Regions from separate parts of the Homo sapiens genome. Here all the other regions are linked to region 3. Evidence: fine-mapped expression QTL. A gene starts in region 3. Each other region holds a variant in brackets. All regions are shown on one strand. Distances are between the middles of the regions. Region 1 holds the start of DZANK1 (double zinc ribbon and ankyrin repeat domains 1). Region 2 overlaps DTD1 (D-aminoacyl-tRNA deacylase 1). Region 3 holds the start of DTD1 (D-aminoacyl-tRNA deacylase 1). Region 4 overlaps SEC23B (SEC23 homolog B, COPII component).

Evidence for each region. PIP is the estimated chance that this variant, and not a neighbour inherited with it, causes the effect.
Region 1: its variant is fine-mapped to the expression of DTD1 in whole blood (TOPMed, PIP above 0.99).
Region 2: its variant is fine-mapped to the expression of DTD1 in whole blood (TOPMed, PIP above 0.99).
Region 4: its variant is fine-mapped to the expression of DTD1 in whole blood (INTERVAL, PIP 0.95).

Annotation. Positions count from the first base shown.
Region 1 is chr20:18,465,716-18,471,008 of GRCh38, forward strand. It overlaps DZANK1 (double zinc ribbon and ankyrin repeat domains 1), which reads right to left and starts at 1,315. Exons shown (of 21, transcript NM_001367614.1): 1 at 1,281-1,315. POLR3F (RNA polymerase III subunit F) reads left to right here and starts at 1,675. Exons shown (of 9, transcript NM_006466.4): 1 at 1,675-1,853; 2 at 3,229-3,346. The coding sequence starts at 1,792. It overlaps MIR3192 (microRNA 3192), which reads left to right and starts at 4,900; the gene lies at 4,900-4,976. RefSeq lists enhancers at 1,195-1,813, 1,436-1,755. The variant G/A (reference allele first, on the strand shown) is at 2,662.
Region 2 is chr20:18,741,659-18,746,951 of GRCh38, forward strand. It overlaps DTD1 (D-aminoacyl-tRNA deacylase 1), which reads left to right. Exons shown (of 6, transcript NM_080820.6): 5 at 2,442-2,613. The coding sequence ends at 2,594. Among named protein-coding and RNA genes, the nearest start is that of DTD1-AS1, 46 kb to the left of the region's middle. The variant A/G (reference allele first, on the strand shown) is at 3,169.
Region 3 is chr20:18,585,570-18,590,862 of GRCh38, forward strand. It overlaps DTD1 (D-aminoacyl-tRNA deacylase 1), which reads left to right and starts at 2,485. Exons shown (of 6, transcript NM_080820.6): 1 at 2,485-2,546. The coding sequence starts at 2,504. It overlaps LOC124904878 (a long non-coding RNA gene), which reads right to left and starts at 1,896. Exons shown (of 3, transcript XR_007067547.1): 1 at 1,856-1,896. RefSeq lists a silencer at 2,312-2,851 and enhancers at 2,622-3,121, 2,962-3,021.
Region 4 is chr20:18,560,809-18,566,101 of GRCh38, forward strand. It overlaps SEC23B (SEC23 homolog B, COPII component), which reads left to right. Exons shown (of 20, transcript NM_006363.6): 20 at 1-607. Among named protein-coding and RNA genes, the nearest start is that of SMIM26, 4.0 kb to the right of the region's middle. The variant A/G (reference allele first, on the strand shown) is at 2,239.

The sequences.
Region 1 (5,293 bases), 120 kb before region 3:
ATCGCCTTTTCCTGCCTCTGGTGTGTGTCAGCTCTCTTGGCTTCAGGGCAAGTCATCATACAAGGGGAACAGAAGTAATTCTGTGTGTACCACAAAATGTTAGTTAGAGCTAACTTTTTTGGGAAAGCTCCGGGTTCACAGCCTTGCCATTATCACCAGAGCAGTTCTAGTATTTGAAAGCTGCAAAGACACTTTAGAAGGACTGCAGAGTACTACTTCTCAGTGGAAAGGAAGTTTGCAAGAATATAAACAGTGACCAATAAACACAAGCCTCCCGTTTCATCTACTGTATTTATAAATCCTGGTATTAATAATTAACTACCAGTATGAAAGCCTTACTGGTCTTTTTGGAGGTGAGGGTGGGGAGGAAGGTTGTCATAATTAATGCACAGAAGGTTTCAGGGGGAAAAAACGCTCACCTTAACACAACAACCATTTACATCTCTGTATTGCCTTTTCAAATTTCATTAATAATCCATAGATTTTGCCCAATTATAATCTACATATTCATTCCATTTTTATAGTCTACTTCTTGCATTCTCACTGTATTATTTAGTTTTCCCTGTACTTATTTATCCATTTGTGGCTGGGCATTTAGGCTATTTCTAGTTTCTTTTTAGTTTTGCCTGTTGCAGTTCTAATAATGCTGATCTGAACATGTCTGCAGTTTGAGCTTTGTCACAGACTGTATTCTCAAAAATGGGGTACCTAAATTTAAGGGGTGAACTTAATGCCTTGTTGGATAGTTCCGGATCTAGGGCCAAGAATATAAACTACAGATACTGACAGCACAACAATAGCTCCTACGGGAGTGTGGCTGGACTTGAGACTTGCCCATAGTCGCATTTCCATTTAAGTGAAAGGCAGATAAAATAAAAGTAGTTGAAAAATTCTAAATAAAAAATATGTAGGAGAGGAAGTAATTCGCGAGCGTCAACTAGCAGCTGCCCTTAGGAAGCTGGGGTGGCCAGTGGGCCCCACGCAAAGGGAATCAAGAAAAAAGGCGGATCCGCCAGGCCCAAATGGCAACGTGCAGTCAACAGGATCCCCAGACCCCTCAACTCTCCCAACGTGGACCGCCCCCTCGCAGCCCGGATCCGGAATCCCGTTTGGTTGTTCCCGCCCATCAGGGGCTGCCAAGGACACCTGCATCCTTTCGGCTGGAGTAAGGGAAGCTCTTCCCCTCCTCTAGCCGCCCTCCTCTTCCTCTAACCGCGGGGCCCGGGATCGGGACCCCTAATGCATCTCTGCCGCGCCCAACCCAGTCGCCAGCCTCTCACCGCCTCTTGCCTCCTCCTTCGCCGCCGCCCGGGTTACCACAGACGCGGCGAGCCGCGCCCCGCCCACTGGGTGCTGGGCAGATGATTGGTGGAGACTCAGCTTCTTAGCAACTAGACCGGCCCCTGCCGCTCCGCAGGGAGCCTGGTACCCGCCTGGAGTTCCTTTCCCAGTGCTTTCCCATAGGCATCTAAGAATATTCCTTCACAGAGTTGCCAAGTGCTAAAAGTTGGTTTCCCAACTCAGAATGAAGGAACCAGGCTTGTGCGTCCGATGGGCATTGACATTCTGGAAAACAAGAATAAGAAGCTGTAGCGGCGCCTGTAAGTGGGCCGGAGCAGGCGCAGCTTGGCCACCTCCCGCCGAAAGGCAAGGAAGGACCGGCTGCGACACGAGGAAGAAGGCCCCTCGGCCTCAGCAGAGCGCTATCCTCCACTGGTTCCCCGGGTTCCCCGGCTTGCTACCGGGCTGCTCCGTGCATCTTTCCCCCCAGGCGTCAGGAACTGCGCCCTCATGGCGGAGGTGAAGGTGAAGGTGCAGCCGCCTGACGCGGATCCGGTCGAAATAGAAAACAGGTAAACCAGTGAGGCTCCGGCTTGGCACTCCATCAGGCGCCCAGTCATTTGGGCAGCTGGACCCCTTCTCCGGGATCCCTTGGGAGTGGCCGGAGCGGGTTAGGTGAGCACGCGGGAAAAACGATTGCGGGGTTCTGGACCCACTTGTTCCTTCCCATCCTGGGAGAGCAGAACTCAAGAAGTTCAAAATGGGTTTGACAGCTTGCAACTTTGTGTAGCTGGCTGGCTTTGCCCTGATACTTTTGGGGAAGTTGTGATGACGTGCTGCCTTCCTACTTTGACGCGATCAGTGCTTTGAGAGGAGCCCTCGGCTTTCTTTCCCTGTAGAACACTTGTGAATACATGTTCTGATCCAGGATCGCTCTTGTCACTAAGGGAACGTCTATGACAAAACGTTTAGGCGGAGTTAGGGCGCAGTTGGTGATTACGAAGTAACATTAAGCCAGGTGGTTTCAGTGCAGTATTGAACTCAAGACTTTTAGGACACCCAAAGCCTCTGCCACTTTTATTTTTATTTGTTTGTTTGTGAGACAGAGTCTCGCTCTGTCGCCAGGCTGGAGTGCAGTGGCGCGATCTCGGTTCACTGCAATCTCCGCCTCCCGGGTTCAAGCGATTCCCCTGCCTTAGCCTCCCGAGTAGCTGGGACTACAGGCTCGCGCCACCACGCCCAGCTAATTTTTTATGTTTTAGTAGAGACGGGGTTTCACCATGTTGTCTGGGATGGTCTCGATCTCCTGACCTCGTGATCCGCCCGCCTCGGCCTCCCAAAGTGCTGGGATTACAGGCGTGAGCCACCGCGCCCGGCCCA[G/A]TTTTATATTTTACCGAGGCACTGCCACTCTTAGATTTTCACGTAGTTTTAAAAGACTCAACTTTCTCAGACTGTTAGGAATAATACATTTGTTGATGTCGACTAGGTGAAGATTTTGACTTTTTTTGTTTGGTAGGTATAATTCCAAAAACAGGCCCCATTATGGTGAATTGTCATAACAAATTTTGGCTTCCTACCAGAAACATCTGCATTTGCCTCCTGCTTGCAGATTTATGGCTTAACTTTGTCATGCTTATTACACCCGAGAAAACTGAAGTCTCAGCTTTAATATTTTTTCTGTGATTTCATTAGACTTTTGCTCTAATTTAAAGTTCTTATTAGTGAGGAAAAGAAATATTCTTAAATAACAATAATACTGTAAACATGTATTTAGAAATCATCTTCTTCAATTTCTAACATGCTTTGATCCAAAACCATCACAGAAACCCAGATTGTCTGCCAAATGTGAAAAAGGCACAGTTTCAAACTATTCTACTTGTATTTTTACCCCCACTGTCTCTTGAAACAGGTAACCATGAAGGATAACATTAATACCTTTGTTTCTAGGATTATAGAATTATGTCACCAGTTCCCTCATGGAATCACAGACCAAGTAATTCAGAATGAAATGCCTCATATAGAAGCCCAGCAGCGGGCAGTAGCCATCAATAGGTTGTTGTCTATGGTAAGGTGAATCTAACTATTTTGCATAATTACTGATATGCTGATTATCACTGGTTTTTATTATGTAGTTGTGATGGTTAATTTCATGTCAACTTGACTAAGATACAGGATTCCTACATATCTAGTTAAATATTTTATTGGAGTGTCTGTGTGGGTGTTTCTGAAAGAGGTTAGCATTTTGAATTGGTGAACGGAGTAAAGTAGATATGGGTCCAGTTGGGTGAGCATCATCCAATCCATTCAGGGCCTAAATAGAACAAAGTGGCAGAGGAAGATTGAATTCACTCTTTGAATTCAATCTTGAGCTGGGCTATGAATCTTGTGCCCTCAGCACTCCTGGTTCTCAGACCTTCAGACTTGGACTGGTATCTACACCATCAGCTCTCTGCTCTCAGCCCTTTGATCTGCAACACCAGCTTTCCTGGGTCTCCAGCTTGCAGAGGGCAGATGATGGGACTCCTCAGCCTCCATAATCACAGAGCAAATAGCTTCTGATGAATCTTTCAAGAGGGAGGTGTATCCTATTGGTTCTTTTTCTCTGGAGAACCCTAATACAGCAGTCATAAAACGAGAAAGTGTGTTAGGTTTGACTGATAAGACTCTAAACCAGGAAACAGCTCAAACTACCTGAATTGAAAAAAGAAGAAATAATTATGCGTTATAAGACAAATGAAATAAATGTATTATGGTATAACTGTTGTATTTATTAATTGCCACTGCCATACATAGGTCTAGTCTGTTCTCACCTTCTGTTTGCTTCCTACTGCTGGTGTTGGGCCATTTCCCATAAAATATTCCACCCCCCGATTTTCCTATGAGTTGTCACAGAGCCCAGTCATCAGGGTTTCATTCTCCACATTGTCACTCTGAGCATTTCAGGAAGCAAGAATGAGTCCAGTTGAATGAAGAATGTTGGGCTTTGGGGAGGAAGTGCAGCCTTAGCCCCCAGTGACATTGCAATGGAATTTATCAGTGAAGCCATTCTCCATCTGTCCAGAAACAAACAAGCAAGACTGTCTAAAAACCCACCAAGTGGTGCCGATGCTCTAAATCTCCCTTACTTTCCCTCATCACCAAAACATCCTTTTCCTAAGAGCATTTCAGTTTGGCTTTAGTAGCAGTTAGGTTAAAGAGTTCTACGCCAAGGCCTCATCTGAATGACTGATTTGTTTTTTAAGTCTACTAGCCTTGTTGGATTTCCAAGGGCTCTGGATGTGGAGATTTGGGGTCCGATGAATCTTTTCTTAAACCTTTCCCATCAATTTTCTAGCTCAGGAGTTGGCAAACTTTTTCTATAAAGTGCCAGACAGTATATGTTTTAGGCTTTGTGAGCCATATGATTTCTGTCACAACTACACTGTCATTTTAGCAAGAAGCAGCCATGGATGATGATACATAAACAAATGGCTACAGCCATGTTCCAACAAAACTTTGGTTATAAAAACAAGCTGTGGAGCAGATTGCTCACCCCTGTTCTAGCCCAAGGACAAAGGAATGTTGCTGATTTCTAGTTATTTCACTGTGGTGAAGGTCTTCAGCTCTAGGAAAGACAGAGGAAGGGATTCTGGGAGGTTGTAGCAGTGGAAAAAGTTCTTTTCTTCCTCTGATCGCCCTCTCAGCTCTTTCCTTCTGACTGAAAATCATCTTCAGCACCTCTCTTTTACCACCTCTGCCACCACCCACCCACTGCGAGTCCTATTGGCTATAGGTTGTATGCAGGCAGTAGTAGAGCTATCAAAGGATATTAAGAAAGGGAGTGATTATTAATAAATCATGTAATGTTTCTGATTTTAGCTCTTAAAAACAGTTCTTAAATTTGCTGTCCACACCCCCTCCATTTCTATCCCTGGTACTGCATCATGTTCAGGCTCATGGCTTTTACCTGGACAGCTGCAGTAGCATCTTAACTGGTTTCCATGACTCCATCTGTCTCAGAGAAGCCAGCCTG
Region 2 (5,293 bases), 160 kb after region 3:
TATAGCCTTCTGAAGCTAAATTTGTTTTGTATAACATGATTTTCAAGATTTATCTATTTTTTTTAATTAAAAAAAATTTTTTTTGAGACAGTCTTCCTCTGTCACCCAGGCTGGAGTGCAGTGACATGATCTCAACTTACTGTAACCTCTGCTTGCTGGGCTCAAGCGATCCTCCCGTCTCAGCCTCCCCAGTAGCTGGGACTACAGGCATGTGCCACCACGCCTGGCTAACCTTTGTATTTTTTTTTTTTTTTTTTTTTTGTAGAGACAGGGTCTCTCTATGTTGCCCAGGCTGGTCTCAAACTCCTGAGCCCAAGCAGTCGCCCACCTTGGTCTCCTAAAGTGCCGCTATTGCAGGCATGAGCCACCACCTCTGACCAAGACTTGGCTATTTTGATATATGTAGATCTACTGTACAATATTGCTTTAGGGGACCAGACCACATTACACGTATCTGTCCTCCTAATGTTGATGGACATTTGGGTTGTTTCTAGGTTTTTGCAAATACAAATGACACTACAGTCCATGTTCTCAGAAGCCCCCACTGTGCACACAAGTGGAAATTTATCCAGGGGAGTTTTCGGAGGAGAGTTGCTGAGTCAAAGGTGAAGTGATGTCTTCATTCACAAAATCTAATTAGTATATTAACCAAACTTAGCTGTATTCTACAGCTTTTCAGGTAAATGGGGAGTAGGAAAGAATAAGCCAGGGGTCCTCAACCCCCAGGCCAGGGACCGGTACTAATCCCTGTGGCCTGTTAGGAACTAGTCTGCACAGCAGGAGGTGAGCAGCCTATGAACGAGCATTATCACCTGAGCTCCGCCTCCTGTCAGATCAGCAGTGGCCTTAGATTCTCATAGGAGCGGGAACCCCATTGTGAACTGTGCATGCGGGGGATCTAGGTTGCAGGCTTCTTATGAGAATCTCACCAATGTCTGATGCTCTGAGATGGAACAGTTTCATCCTGAAACCATCCCCTCTTCTGTCCCCCATCTCACAGAAAAATTGTCTTCTATAAAACCGGTCCCTGGTGCCAAAAATGTTGGGGACCACTACTATAAGTCAATTATTAATAAATTTGATTTCCTGGACCCAATTGAGAGCTACTGGTTGGTTGTTCATCTCTCGAAGGGTTAACTCAAAGTCTGTTCATAGTGGAAGAAATGATCTGGCAGATTGGGGGAAGTGAATCCTCTTTGTGTCTTGGATGTGGGGCAGGGACCAGCAGGGAGAAGCCAGCCCTTCAATAAGTTTCCTTCTTTTTATGTAAACTAGAAAAAGTTCACAGACTTAGTCTGGGAGGGAGATAAAACTGGGTATTGCTGTCTCTTGTGTTTTTTGGTCTAAGAAAATTCCGTGGTTCAAAACTTGGCCGGTCTTCTCTGCTGGGTTTCTCAGCAGGCTTTCCTGTAGTGGCTGGGCTGCTGCTCAGTGTTAGATGATGGAAGCTTCTTTCAGCCATCTAGCTGATGCTTTCTTTGAAGAACTATTCAGGGAAGAAGTGGGCCCAGGTTCCATTCGAGTGAGACATCAGGGGCATGTCCCCTGCTGGCCTGGTGGGAGCCTAAGAAGGCTCTAGTGGCCAGTGTCCTGAGTGTTGCCACCACGCAGCCTGCAAGCAAGTCAGCCTTCAGTCTCAAATCAACTGGTAACTGAGACGGTGTTCAGTGTGCTTAATGCACTTTGTTTCACAGCCTTCTCTGTAATCTTCAGCAAAGAGTAATGTGTTTTGAACATTCTTTAGAAAACACGTGGTGTGGCATGGTGGCTCACACCTGTAATCACAACACTTTGGGAGGCCGAGGTGGGTGGGTTGCTTGAGCCCAGGAGTTCAAGAACAGCTTGGGCAACATGGTGAAACTCTGTTTCTACAGAAAAATTGGCATGCACCTGTAGTCACAGATACTTGAGAGGTTGAGGTGGGAGGATCACTTGAACCCAGGAGGTTGAGGCTGCAGTGAACTGTGACCGCACCACTGTACTTCAGCCTGGGCAACAGAGTGAGACCCTGTCTCAAAAAAAAAAAAAAAAAAAAGAAAAGAAAAGAAAAAAGAAAACAACAAGTAGAAGGTAACTTGATGAGAAAAAAAACTATCAAAGAAAAAAGTAAGAGATGAAAAGCCTTCATATATGGAGCTCTTCTAAGGCTGTTGAAGAAGGCTGTGGCATGACCGCTCCCTCATACTGTGTGCCAAGTTGAATTATGGTTGGGGAAAAGTCTGAGAGTGATTACTCCTATGACTAATGATTTGTTTCAGTGATTCAGGTGCCTGTTGGAAAAACATTCTGTGTATAATTTGGTATATCTGAACCACTGTGCTCTGCCAGGTTATCAGAAAAAAACTTTTCAATGGTTCCCACCTGGGAAGTCACTGGTGTGTGGGATACACAGGCATGTGTTTGTGTTTGTAAAATATTCTTTTTTATTTTTATTTAATCAGCTGTCAAAGCTCGAAAAACAGCAGCAGAGGAAAGAAAAGACCAGAGCTAAGGGACCTTCTGAATCAAGCAAGGAAAGAAACACTCCCCGAAAAGAAGACCGCAGTGCCAGCAGCGGGGCTGAGGGCGACGTGTCCTCTGAACGGGAGCCGTAGCTCAGGAGGCAGAATTCAGGTAGGAGTTTCCCTGCTTGGCTTCATCTTCCCACATTTTGGGGAAGCAGCAATGAATAGGAGGGAATAGCTGCTGAGGCTGAATTCATTCATTTCACAGCGTTCATCCATAGCTTCCTTAAATCTGCTGCCTTCCAGGATGGAGACAAAAGTTAGTGTGTTAGTCCGTTTTCACGCTGCTGATAAAGACATACCTGAGACTGAGTAATTTATAAAGATAAAGAAGTTTAATGGACTCGCAGTTCCACGTGGCTGGGGAGGCCTCACAATCATGGTTGAAGGCAAAAGGCATTTCTTACATGGCGGCAGGCAAGAGAGTATAAGGGTCAAGCACTCCAGCCTGGTGACAGAGCAAGACTCCATCTCAAAAAAAAAAAACAAAAAACAAGTGAAAGGGGTTTCCCCTTATAAAACCATCAGCTCTTGTGAGACTTGTTCACTACCAAGAGAACAGTATGGGGGAAACTGCCCCCATGATTCAGTTACCTCCCACCAGGCCCCTCATCTTGAATTGTAGTTCCCATAATTTCCACGTGTGTGTTCCTACGTGGGAATT[A/G]TGGGAGCTACAATTCAAGATGAGATTTGGGTGGGGACACAGCCAAACCATATCAGTTAGCAAATAAGATTGTATTTTATTCATTGAGATGCAGGAGGGTGGCATACCACAGGCCTGGGGTGCCCACCTGGGGGTGGAACCTGTTTGTGCCACCTTCTCTGGCTGCCTGTGCCAGTCCACAGCTGCTGCTGTGATTGCCTGTGCAGAACACTCACTCACCGATACAGAATCCAGATGCAGATGCAGAGTCCACTTGCGCTCCTGCATCTCCCTTCCTGCTCTTAGCCACTCTAGCAAAGGGCACTGCCATCTCAGCAGCCTACTTTCATTGCCACCTGCCCCGTGTTCTGAAATCCTTCACAGTGCCCCGTGTGGCACTGTGAGTTTACTTTTCCTAAAATGGCATTTTATTCTTATTGTGGCTCACTGTAGCACGGAGTCCACCTCCCTGCCTGAACATCAGAGGCCTTGAAAATGTGATGCGGCCATCTGATGGCACTGTGCCTAGTTCCTCCCACCAGGGAACCTGTTTATTTTGCCAAGCACTGGACCAAATACTGGGTGCAGATTTGAGGGACCCAGGACCTGTCATGGGGAGGTCACAGGCTCAGGGAGAAGCATAGGAACAGTTATACTACAGCACGGTGCGTGTGGCAGGAGTGTGAACAGGTGTGGGGTGGAGATGGGAGGTCAGGAGAGGCCCCTCAGAGGCCTGGGACCAGATCTGGAAGGACAGGTGGCAGTGGGGAGGCAGATGAGGGGCAAGGGCAGGGGAGAGCTGCCTGAGCCAAGAGAAGAGCAGTGCAAATGCCATCTGGAGGTTGGGGGGCAAGGACAGGAGAGTTTGGGAATGGAGGAATTGCAGAAGGGTGGGAGTGTTGAGTGCCAAGTGGAGTGGGAGGGCAGGGAGCATCTCTGAACTTAGAGAAATAGGAGGTCTGGATTGTATAGGGTCTGGTATGCAACCCTGAGGAATTTGGATTTTATCCTGGGGCGGGAGGGACCTCTGAAAGGTTTTAAGTGTACAAGTGACATCATCAGATACAAAGTTTAAAAAGAGCACTCACTTGAGCAGCTTTGGGGAGTGAGGCTGGAAGCAGATAGGCCCATTAGGAGGTGATTGCAGAAGTCCAGAGAAAAAATTATAGTAGGAACAGAGGGGAAAGAGTGGGATTGAAAGATGTAAAGGAAATAGAATCATTTCAACGTGGTGACTGATTAGATTGGAAGAGGAGACATCCAGAAGGATGAGGGAGGAAGATGGGGGTTGCTGACGGTACCTATTTTGGGTGTGTTGTGTTTGAGGTGCCTGTTGGCAGCCAATGGTGATGCCAGTCGTCTGCTGAGTCTGTGGCTTTAGAGCTGGGGAGCCAGGTCTCGGACATACAATTTGGAGCCTTCAGCTCACAGACTGTGGTTAAAACCAAGTTAGGAGACAGAATTCACCCAAGAGACACCAAATTATGATAGAAGAACATCCAGAAGGTGGTTTTCAGCCTTCTCTTTCTCTTCTGAAAGAGAGCAAGGGTCAGAAGTGTACCTATGAAATGGCTTTTAGGATCCACAATACCAGGAAGTGAGATATATTAGGCCAGGTGTGGTGGCTTACACCTGTAATCCTAGCACTTTGGGAGGTTGAAGTGAGAGAATCACTCGAACCCAAGAGTTTGAGACCAGCCTGGGCAACATGGTGAGACCCCCGTCTCTTAAAAAAAAAAATTAGCTGAGCATGGTGGTGCTTGCCTATCATCCTAGCTACTCAGAAAGCTGAGGTGGGAGGATTGCTTGAGTTTGGGAGTTGGAGGCTGCAGTGAGCCATGATTGCAGCACTGCACTCCAGCCTGGGTGACAGAGTGAGACCCTGACTCTTAAAAATAAAATTTAAAAAAGATACATTAGTTGTAATTGGGCACAGTGGCACCAGCTCCCAAATGGATACACAGACGAGAGGAACAGAATGGAGAGCTCAGGAAGGGTGGATTGTTGGTTCATAGACAGTTTTAGGGGAGGGGACTGGACAGTGAGTCCTGTTGTCCTCTTAACTGTTCCCTCATCACTGTGTTTTCCTGCTAGTGTTGTGCAGGGAGACAACAGCACTGTGGTGACCAGCCTTGGCTTATGTATC
Region 3 (5,293 bases):
TAGGGGTGAACATTTTGAATTCCATTTTAAGTATGTTAACTTTTTTTTTTTTTTTTGAGACACAGGTTTACTTTGTCACCCAGGCTGGAGTGCAGTGGCAGTGATCCTGGCTCACTGCAACCTCCGCCTCTCGGTTTCAAGTGATTCCTGTGCCTCAGCCTCCCAAGTAGCTGGGATTATAGGTGCCCACCATCACGCCTGGCTAATTTTTGTATTTTTAGTAGAGATGGGGTTTCACCATGTTGGCCAGGCTGGTCTTGAACTCCTGACCTCAAGTGATCCACCTGCCTCAGCCTCCCAAAGTGCTGGAATTACAGGCGTGAACCACCACGACCAGCCCAATTTTCCCTTTTTTAGTCTTATTCTTTCAGGAGTGCACAATGGAGTTTTCCAGGGGCTCCGTGACATATAGTGACTTCATTGCTCTGATATTCATATGTAGGGGATTTATTATTGCTATTTTTAAATGCATTGATAAATCCATGTTAACTATTTCTCTTAGTTAAAAACAGTAAACATTTTTAGATATAATCCACCTAAACAAAAGCTATACTTTGTGCCCAATAATTTTTAAGAATGTAAAGGGATCCTGTGATCAAAATATTGAGACCTGCTGATTTTTCAAAAACTCAAATTTTACCAGTTGTTCCAATAATAAGCTTTTCCTTTTCTTGATTTTTCTGGCCAGGATACCACCCAGGTTAATTTAGTTTTCCTGTCTTTTTTTTTTTTTTTTTTTTTTTTGAGACAGAGTCTTGCTTTGTCACCCAGGCTGGAGTGCAGTGGCACGATATCGGCTCACCGTAACCTCCGCCTCCCGGGTTCAAGCAATTTTCTTGCCTCAGCCTCCCGAGTAGCTGGGATTACAGGCATGCGCTGCCATGCCTGGCTAATTTTTGTATTTTTAGTAGAGACGGGGTTTCACCATGTTGGCCAGGCAGGCCTCGAACTCCTGACCTCCAATGATCCGCCCACCTTGACCTCCCAAAGTGCTGGGATTACAGGTAGTTTTCCTGTCTTTTAAAAAGTCCACGGCTGGGCGCAGTGGCTCATGCCTGTAATCCCAGCACTTTGGGAGGCCAAAGCGGGCAGATCACCTGAGGTCGGGAGTTCGAGACCAGCCTGACCAACATGGAGAAATCTCATCTTTAATAAAAATACAAAATTAGCCGGGCGTGGCGGCGCATGCTTGTAATCCCAGCTACTCAGGAGGTTGAGGCAGAAGAATTGCTTGAACCCAGGAGGCAGAAGTTGTGGATAGCCAAGATCACACCATTGCACTTCAGCCTGGGCCACAAGAGCAAAACTGCATCTCAAAAAAAAAAAAAAAAAAAATCCTCCTTAATTCTCGGAATCCTACCTGGTTATTTTGTAGAATGTTCCTCAATTTATTTTTGTCCTATGTTTCATCATGATTGGATTCAGGTTATACATTATTTGGCAGAAATACCACAAGATTGATGTTGTGTCCTTCCCAGTGCAATATCAGGAGGCACATGATGTCTTGTTACTGGTTATGTTAACTTTGACAACGTTATTAAGGCAATTTAGTATTCAGTATTTAACAAACAAGCACACTAGTTTGTAGTCTTTTCTGGGCAAGTGAGGGTTTCTTCTCAATTTCAGTGCCTTTTCTACGCCCACCAATGCTATTAGTCACCTTTAAGGTGAAGACTGCTGAGATGGAATTATTTTTAGCAATGATAATAATTTGTTGGGGTAATAGTTGTACAGCCCTTTGCTGCCATCTAAGCACTTTTACGTGGTTTGGTTCATTTAAATCTAACAACCCAGTGAGGGGGCCAATTAGTAGCATTTATATTACATGAGAAATTAGAATTCTAGAATCACATACCTATTTATTATCATGACATGGCTAAGTCGAATTAATAGTGAGATAGGTAAATGGCTATTTTAGGCAGCAGATCCTTTTGTATGTGGTATCTGAAAAGCCACTGAGGCAGGAAGACAAGGAAGAAGAATTTGGGAGGATCTGCGTGCAGAGGAGTGGAAGAGGAAAGAGGAATACAATTAGAAATAGGATTCAGGCTGAATTTAAAGGCTTAGTGATGACGGGTTCTTAGGTTCGGGTATGTGGGAGAAAAAAACCAGCATAGAGACTACCTTCGGGGCAGAGTGGGTTCTGGGCACTGGGTAGGGGCTGGGCCCGGGATGGGGGGATCAAAGGGCTCTGGCGGGACCCAGATGTGGATGGGGCAGGGCCGAGCGTGGGGACTGGGCTTTTCAATGACGGGCGGGGTTACGGTTGGGCAGCAGGTGGGCGTGGCAGGCATAGGCGGAGTCAATCTATGAGTGGGTGGGCCTATCGCCAGGCCGAGAGTGGGCGTGGCCGACGTGGGGTGGGTAGCAGCCGACCGAGTCGGACCGGCCAGTTGGGCGCGCTTCCGGGTGTCACCTCCAGAGGGCGCCGGCTGCGGAGCCGCCCTCAGAGTCGCGAGGCCGGACGCAGCGCGGCGCCGCCCCACTCGCCCCAGCCGCCGCCATGAAGGCCGTGGTGCAGCGCGTCACCCGGGCCAGCGTCACAGGTCAGTCGGGCGGGGCCGGGCCCGGGAGGAGCCGCCCCTGACCCCCGCGACCGGCTGTCTTGCGTGGGGGGTCTTCCTGCGCCATCCTTGGGGCCGCTGCGGCCCCTCCGCGAGCCTGGTCCCCTTCGCGAGCTCGGTCCGCGCAGCCGCGAGTCCCCAGGGCCGGCTTCGGGGCAGCGCGGCGGCCGGAGAGCCCCCTGCACGTGCCCGACCGGCCCCGGCGCGCCCCTGGCTTCCGGCTCTCGGCAGAGGGTGCAGGACCAGCGCGCCTCATTCTCAGCACCTTTGTCCTGCGTGCGGGATGGCGGAGCCTCGGAGCATCTCCGTGGTCCGCTCTTCAGGGAGTGTTGATGAACCACGCTTAGAGCATTTCCGGAGCAGGCACTCCTCCCTTTTCACTGCTGTATTTTAAATGTTCAATTTTTGCCCATTTTTACGTATTCCAATTTTTATGGGGCTTGACTCAGGATGAAATGCACAGATGCGGAGAGTTGCTCCTTGGGCTGAGCTTTGACAGTTGCGTGCACGTACGTGACTGGAGCCTAGGCTGGATGAGGGGCGCCCCCTGCCCAGGACGCCCCTCGCCCTCGCCCGCTGAACTCTGCGCGGAGGGGTCGGGATCTAAAGAATTCAAGATGAAAACATTTCTCTTTTTCTTGTGGACCAAGCTACCCGACCCCTGGTCATCACTCAGCACTTTCGTCTCGGTTGGGCATCAGAGGTCCAGATGATTAGTGTAGATAAAGTAGTCGTTTTAAGAAAACCACGGTACGAAAGATATTTTTTAAAAAACATTTAAATGACAAGCTTTATATTGTCTTTAGTCTTTTCTGTCTTTATTGGCACAACTATATTGTTTCAGTTCAAATAATTTCAGATATCCTGTCCTTGGAGCCAGTCTGCACCAAATATGCGTTCTTGTGTCCACAAAAGTATGAATTAAAAACAAAACAGGCCGGGGGCTGTGGCTCACACCTGTAATCCCAGCTCTTTGGGAGGCCAAGGCGGGCAGATCACCTGAGGCCAGGAGTTCGAGACCAGCCTGGCCAACATAGAGAAACCCTATCTCTACTACAAATACAAAAATTAGCCGGGAGCGGTGGTTGGTGCCTATAATCCCAGCTACTCGGGAGGCTGAGGTAGGAGAATCGCTTGAACCCGGGAGGCAGAGGTTGCAGTGAGCCGAGATTGTGCCAGTAACCTCCAGCCTGGGCGACAGAGCGAGACTCTGTCTCAAAAAACAACAAACAAACAAAACCCCAAAACAAAAAACAAAACAAAACAAAAACAACAAAAAACCCTAAAGAAACAACCAAACCCACCAAAACCGTATATTTAAATCTAAGAGTCTATTTTTCAACCCCGCCTAATGATTTCTAAGCTGTTCTGGTAGCTTTGGTTTTGGAAATGGTCCTGGAATAATAGGGAATAGAGTAGCACTGGGATTTAGGAATTTTAAAGCTTTTATAACATTTCTGTAGATATTTAAATTCATGAAAACTGGGAAAATTCATAGATGAAAGATGTTTTGCATTATTGAGAAGAACCTTGCAGTCTGCTGCTGTGTGTGGTCGTCACTGACAGATTTAAATTTTGATCTCTCTCCTGAACTCTCCATCCTGCTAATCTGGAATATTGAAAATGTGTATTCTGTGAGATGTGCTGAATAAGAGTTTGGGTTATTTTGGTTCACTATTTAAGTTATATGCTTTCAGTTAAAACAACCAAACCTGCATATTAAAAAAGATAAGGGTGTTAATTATGGGAAAGTGTAAATAATTCGGGAATTCTGGGTTGGGGAACTGTGGAATTCTGTTAGAAGGGCCCTCCACTTATGCAGGCCTTCTAGTTGCATTGTAATGGAAAGGGATTTTCTGATTCCTTTAAAATGTGGCTGGTTTCACTGAAATGTGGCTGTGTTTGAATGGCATTTTATTTTAGGGGTTCTAAAATGTTAACTTCCTGTTTTATGGTCAGGACAGCATAGATTATCAGGAGTCACACATTTTATTTTATTTTAAAATAGTTGGTTGACTTCACATTTATTTTAAATTTATGCATTTATGGTTTGTTTGTTTTAGAGATGGGGTCTTGCTCTGTCACCCAGGCTGGAGTGCAGTGGCACTATTATAGCTTACTACAACCTCAAACGCTTGGGCTCAAGTGATCCTTTAGTTTCAGCATCCTGAGTAGTTAGACTACAGGCGTGTGCCGCCACCGCTATGTCCAGCTTAGGAGTCACACATTTTACTATGTGGTATATTCAATTTATGTGATTGGTCAAACACATTTTTTTTTATAGTAACCCTGTAATATCATTTGATGCCCAGTCCATCAGATTTCTCCAATTGGCTAATTGGTTTTGTTTTTGTTTTGAGAGAGTCTTGCTCTGTTGCCGAGGCTGGAGTACAGTGGTGCCATCTCTGATCACTGCAGCCTCTGCCTCCTGGGTTCAAGCGATTCTCATGCCTCTGTGTCCTGAGTAGCTGGTCTTACAGGTGCGCGCCACTGTGCCTGGCTAATTTTTTTGTATTTTTAGTGGAGACAGGGTTTTGCCATGTTGACTAGGCTGGTCTCAAATTCCTGGCCTCAAGTGATTTGCCTGCCTCGGCTTCCCAAAGTGCTGGGATTACAGGCATGAGCCACTGCACCCAGCTTGATCAAACACATTTTGATGCCTTAGGTTGGGTACTGTGATAATCTAATTTTTAAAAGTTTATTATGGCACATTTCAAACATATTAACAG
Region 4 (5,293 bases), 25 kb before region 3:
CATTCCTGTTACTTTTCTAGCAGATTTTAACAAATAATCAAGGACATTTTATATGTAACTCTTTAGATTATAATTTATTTGTATTCCTGTCTTTGTCCTTTTTCTTGCACTATAAAATTATAAGGTCATAAATGTTTTGGTACTTGTAGATGTTTATGTGCTTTTTGTATCCTAACTTTTAGAATCTAAATAAAATCAGAGGTAATGTATTTTGGCAGCTTGTTTAGGTGAGAATCTTAATGATCATAAAGGAAATAAATCTAGATGCAGAAAGTACTGGCTAAAATATTGCTAATACAAATGTGATTTCCTGAGGTCTCTGTGTGAGTGTGTATGTGTTTTAAGTGACTTCCTTAAGAGGTGTTTCCTGAACCTAATTCTCATAATTAAAGTAATGTATATGCAGGATCAAAATGAAACAAATATACCTTATCCTAAAGAGCTCATAACAAATAAGTTACCTCCACTCTATAAACTCAGACCTACTTTTTGAAGATAACTGCTTTTAACCTCTCCTTACAAGATTTTTGTTGTTGATGTATTTAATTTTAGCCCATGTCTCAATTCTCATTTTCAAAGAATCAATATATTAATATACCTTTGGTCATTTTTGTATTTTTATTTTTATATTATCAAGATTGGTAAAATGTATATTCTGGGTCAGATACAGTGGCTCACACCTGTAATCCCAGTGCTAAATTTAGGAGGCCAATGCAGGAGACTCACTTGAGGCCAGGAGTTTAAGACCAGCCTGGGCAACATAGCGAGACTGTCTCTACAAAAAATTTTAAAAGTTACTGGGCCATGGTGGTGTGTGACTGTAGTCCTAGCTACTTGGGAGGCTAAGGCAGGAGGATCACTTGAGCCCAGGAGTTCAAGGTTGCAGTGGGCTCTCATCATGCCACTGCACTCCAGCCTGGGTGGGAGAGCAAGACCCTGTTTCAGGAAAAAAAAGAGATTATATTCTGGCCTATTATCATATTTTTTGTCACTAAGTTGATTGTCAAAGCTGAAAGCTCCTAAGAAGCATTTACACAGCCGTGATGATGTAAATATTGTTCCAGTCCAAGCCAGGTAGGATGACATTTTTCTCTAGGGTGCTAGTGTCCCAGTCAGTCCCTATGTCACTTGTAGGAAAACATTCCAAAGGACAGAATCAGAGTTACTTTCTTACATTCCATCATGCCGCATGTTGGTTTGATCCCTATTTGGATTATGATTTCTTAGATTTGCTGTGGTTTTCCCCAGAATTTCTAAATTTTGTTTGCTTTCTGAGAGAAGAAATATTTTGCTTTCTATTTACTAAGAAATTCTAGCCTATTCTACTGAATGAAGTCCATTTTTTTCTTCTTTGGAGGCCACTGATGTCCCCTTTTAAGGGGGGCCAATAACTTTGACCTACTGCACAACTGTCATCCAGGAATTTCTTCTGTTTGGAATCTCGGGTTAGTTCCACTCTTCCCTTTATTCCATAAGGCATTTTGCAATCTCAAATGACTTTTACTAAAAGGAGTACTTGGGGAGAACTCACTGCATCTTAGCATATCTGCAAATCTATTCTGTCTTCACACTTTATAGCTTTGCCAGGTAATATAGTTTGGATATTTGTCCCCTCCAAGTCCGTCATTGAAATGTAATCCCCAGGATTGGAGGTGGGGCCTGGTAGGAGGAGTTTGGGTCATACCGCTGGATCCTTCATGAATGGCTTGGTGCCATCCTCACAGAAATGAGTGAGTTCTTGTCCTGGGTTCAAATGAGGTATGATTGTTTAAAAGTGTGTTGGCTGGGCACAGTGGCTCATGCCTATAATCCCAGCACTTAGGGAGGCTGAGGCGGGCAGATCACCTGAGGTCAGGAGTTTGAGACCAGCCTGGCCAACATGGTGAAACCCCATCTCTACTAAAAATACAAAAATTAGCCGGGTGTGGTGGCTTGCGCCTGTAATCCCAGCTACTCAGGAGGCCGAGGCATGAGAATGGCTTGAACCCAGGAGGCAGAGGTTGCAGTGAGCCGAGATCGCACCACTGCACTCCCTGGGGGACAGAGCGAGACTGTCTCAAAAAAAATTTTTTTAAAGTGTTACCTCCCCCACCTCTTCCTCTCGTTCTTGCCATGTGGTACATCGGGCTACCTCTTCACCTTCTGCCCTGATTGTAAGCTTCCTGAGGCCTTCACCAGAAGCAGATGCTGGCACCATGCGTCCTGTACAGCCTACAGAACCGTAAGCCATAAGCATAA[A/G]CCGTAAACCTCTTTTTAAAATAAATTACCCAGTCTCGGGTGTTCCATTACAGAGATCCAAAGACAGACTAACCCACTGGGTCTAAAAAGTATAGGCCCAAGATAATCTCAGAACTTTGGAGTCATTCTTTCATTCGTTCAACAAATAACTATCCGGTACTTGTTGTCTATGGAGTAGTCTTCTAGGCATTGGGAATACTGCCAATAAAACAAAAATTCCTGTTTTCATAGAGCTTATGTGTTAGTTAGGGAAGACCAACAATAACAATGTTAGAAGTAAATGATATGGCCGGGCGTGGTGGCTCATGCCTGTAATCCCAGCACTTTGGGAGGCCGAAGTGGGCGGATCACCTGAGGTCAGGAGTTTGAGACCAGCCTGGCCAACATGGCGAAACCCTTTCTCTATTAAAAATACAAAAATTAGCCAGGCATGGTGGTGCACACCTGTAATCCCAGCTACTTGGGAGGCTGAGGCAGGGACAAATTGTTTGAACCCAGGAGATGGAGGTTGCAGTGAGATTGTGCCACTGCACTCCAGCCTGGGCAACAGAACGAGACTCCGTCTCAAAAAAATAAAAAACAAAAAAGAAATGAAGTAAATGATACATTAGAAGGTAATGAGTGCTATGTAGGAAAATGAAGCTGGAAGCTCCTATTAATTGGATGTTGGAACAGCTGGATTGATTGCAATACTCTGTTTTGAATTTGTATTCGAATACAAGTTATTGTATTTCTTTTTGTCTCTGCCCTACATTCTAGCAGAATTCTAGCAGAGTTTCCTATCTTAAAATGTTGAACATTGGCCAGGTGCGGTGGCTCACACCTGTAATCCTAGCACTTTGGGAGGCTGAGGTGGGCAGATCACTTGAGGTCAGGAGTTCAAAACCAGCCTGGCCAACATGGTGAAACCCCATCTCTACTAAAAATATTAAAAAATTAGCCAGGAGTGGTGGTGGGCACCTGTAATCCCAGCTACTTGGGAAGCTGAGGCAGGAGAATCACTTGAACCTCGGAGGTGGAGGTTGCAGTGAGCTGAGGTCACGCCACTATACTCCAGCCTGGGTGACAGAGGGAGACTTCATCTCAAAAAAAAAAAAAAAAAAAAAAGTTGAACATTTACATTTTTCTGTGCGTTTTCCAAGAATATTTTTAGTTTTGGATATAATTTTTAACACATCATATAGAAGAATACATAAAGTTGTCTGTACAGATTAAGGCCAAAACATCCTCTTTGGCTTTTCTGTTTCAAATTAACAGAAAAAAGACTGTGTGATAGACCCAGCTAACTCTGCGGTTCTCTCTAGTGTCAGTGAGTTAAGGAGCTGAGGGAACTGCATGGTATGACATGGCCATGCAGGTCCCACCTTAGGGTACCAGTGACGTTTTTCCACAGAATGTAGGGGGTGGCAGGGTGATAGTGCTGTGTGGAAAACAGCTATCATGAGAAGGGGCCACTGAGCCCAGTATGCCCAGTGAGGACTCTGAACTCCATCTTTTTATTAATTGTTAATTTTTGTGGGTATTGAACTCCATCTTGAAGGTAGGGCAAGCCTCTGACTTATCTTAGGCAGAGGGTGAAATGATAATTTAAGGTTTGAAAGACACTCCAGAGGGGGAAGGATGAGAGGAGACTGTAATCCAAGTGAGAAATGAGGCCTAAACAGAGACAGGGTATTTAGACAGAGGTGACAGAGGATGTCAGGTGAGATGATTCCAAGTTCCTGGCTTGGGCAATTTCTCAATCACTCTCTGAATCAGGGAAGAGAAAGGGAAGGTTTGTTTCCTGTTGGGAGTGGCATTGATAAATTCAATTCGGAACATTTTTTTAGTTTCAGGAGCTTGTGGAATATGCAGCCGAGGATGCATAGCAGGTTGGCAGTAACATGAATTTGCTTTCAGAGAATCTGGAGTAGATTTGAGAGTTATTAACATATAACATAGGTATCATGAGTAAGGCTGATGAGAAGGATGAGAAGAGACGCAAGCTTGAAACAATACCAATTTTTCTGTTTTGTCTATAACTATTGAGCTATAGTTCACATATAATAAACTGCACCCATTTAAAGCATACAATTGGATAAATCTTGACAGAAACCACCACAATAATCAACATACAGAACATTACCATCACCTCTCAAAGTCTCCTCAGACCCTTTTAGCCCTTCCCTCTCTCCATGCCCTTACTGCAGACAACTACTCATCAGCTTTCTCCCACTGGAGTTTGCTTCTAGAATTTCGTGACTGGTTTCTTTGGTGTCTAGCTTGCTTTTTCACTTAGCATAATCCATTTTGAGATTCATCGTATGGTTGTATTTATCAGTAGTTCTTTTTTTTTTTTTTTTTTTTTTTTTTTGAGAAGGAGTCTCACTCTGTCACCCAGGCTGGAGTGCAGTGGTGTAATCTCGGCTCACCACAACCTCCGCCTCCTGGATTCAAGTAATTCTCCTGTCTCAGCCTCTGGAATAGCTGGGATTACAGGCGCCCGCCACCATGCCCGGCTAATTTTTGTATTTTTAGTGGAGACGAGGTTTCACCATGTTGGCCAGGCTGGTCTCGATCTCCTGACTTGAGGTGACCCACCCATCTTGGCCTCCCAAAGTGCTGGGATTACAGGTGTGAGCCACCCGTACCCAGCCAGTAGTTCCTTTTTATTTGTAAGTGGTATCCCACGTTTTGTTTAGCCATTTACTCGATGGGTATTGGGGGTGGTTTCTATTTTTTCCTATTAAGAATAAAACTATGAACATTCATGTACATGGCTGTGTGCAGACACAGGTTTTCATTTCTCATGGATAACTAGAAACGGAATGCCTGGGTTATATGGTAGGCATATGTTCAACTTTTTAAAAACTAAGTTTTGCAAAGAGATTGTAACATTTTATGTTCCCATCAATAACAGTTCCAATTATTCCAAATCCTTACAGCTCTTGGCATTCTCAATCTGATTTTAGCCATTCTAGTAGGTGTGTAATGGTCTCTTATTGTATTCTTTTAATGTCCATTTCTGTGATGACTAATGATGCTACTGTGCTTATTGGTCATTTGTATATCTTCT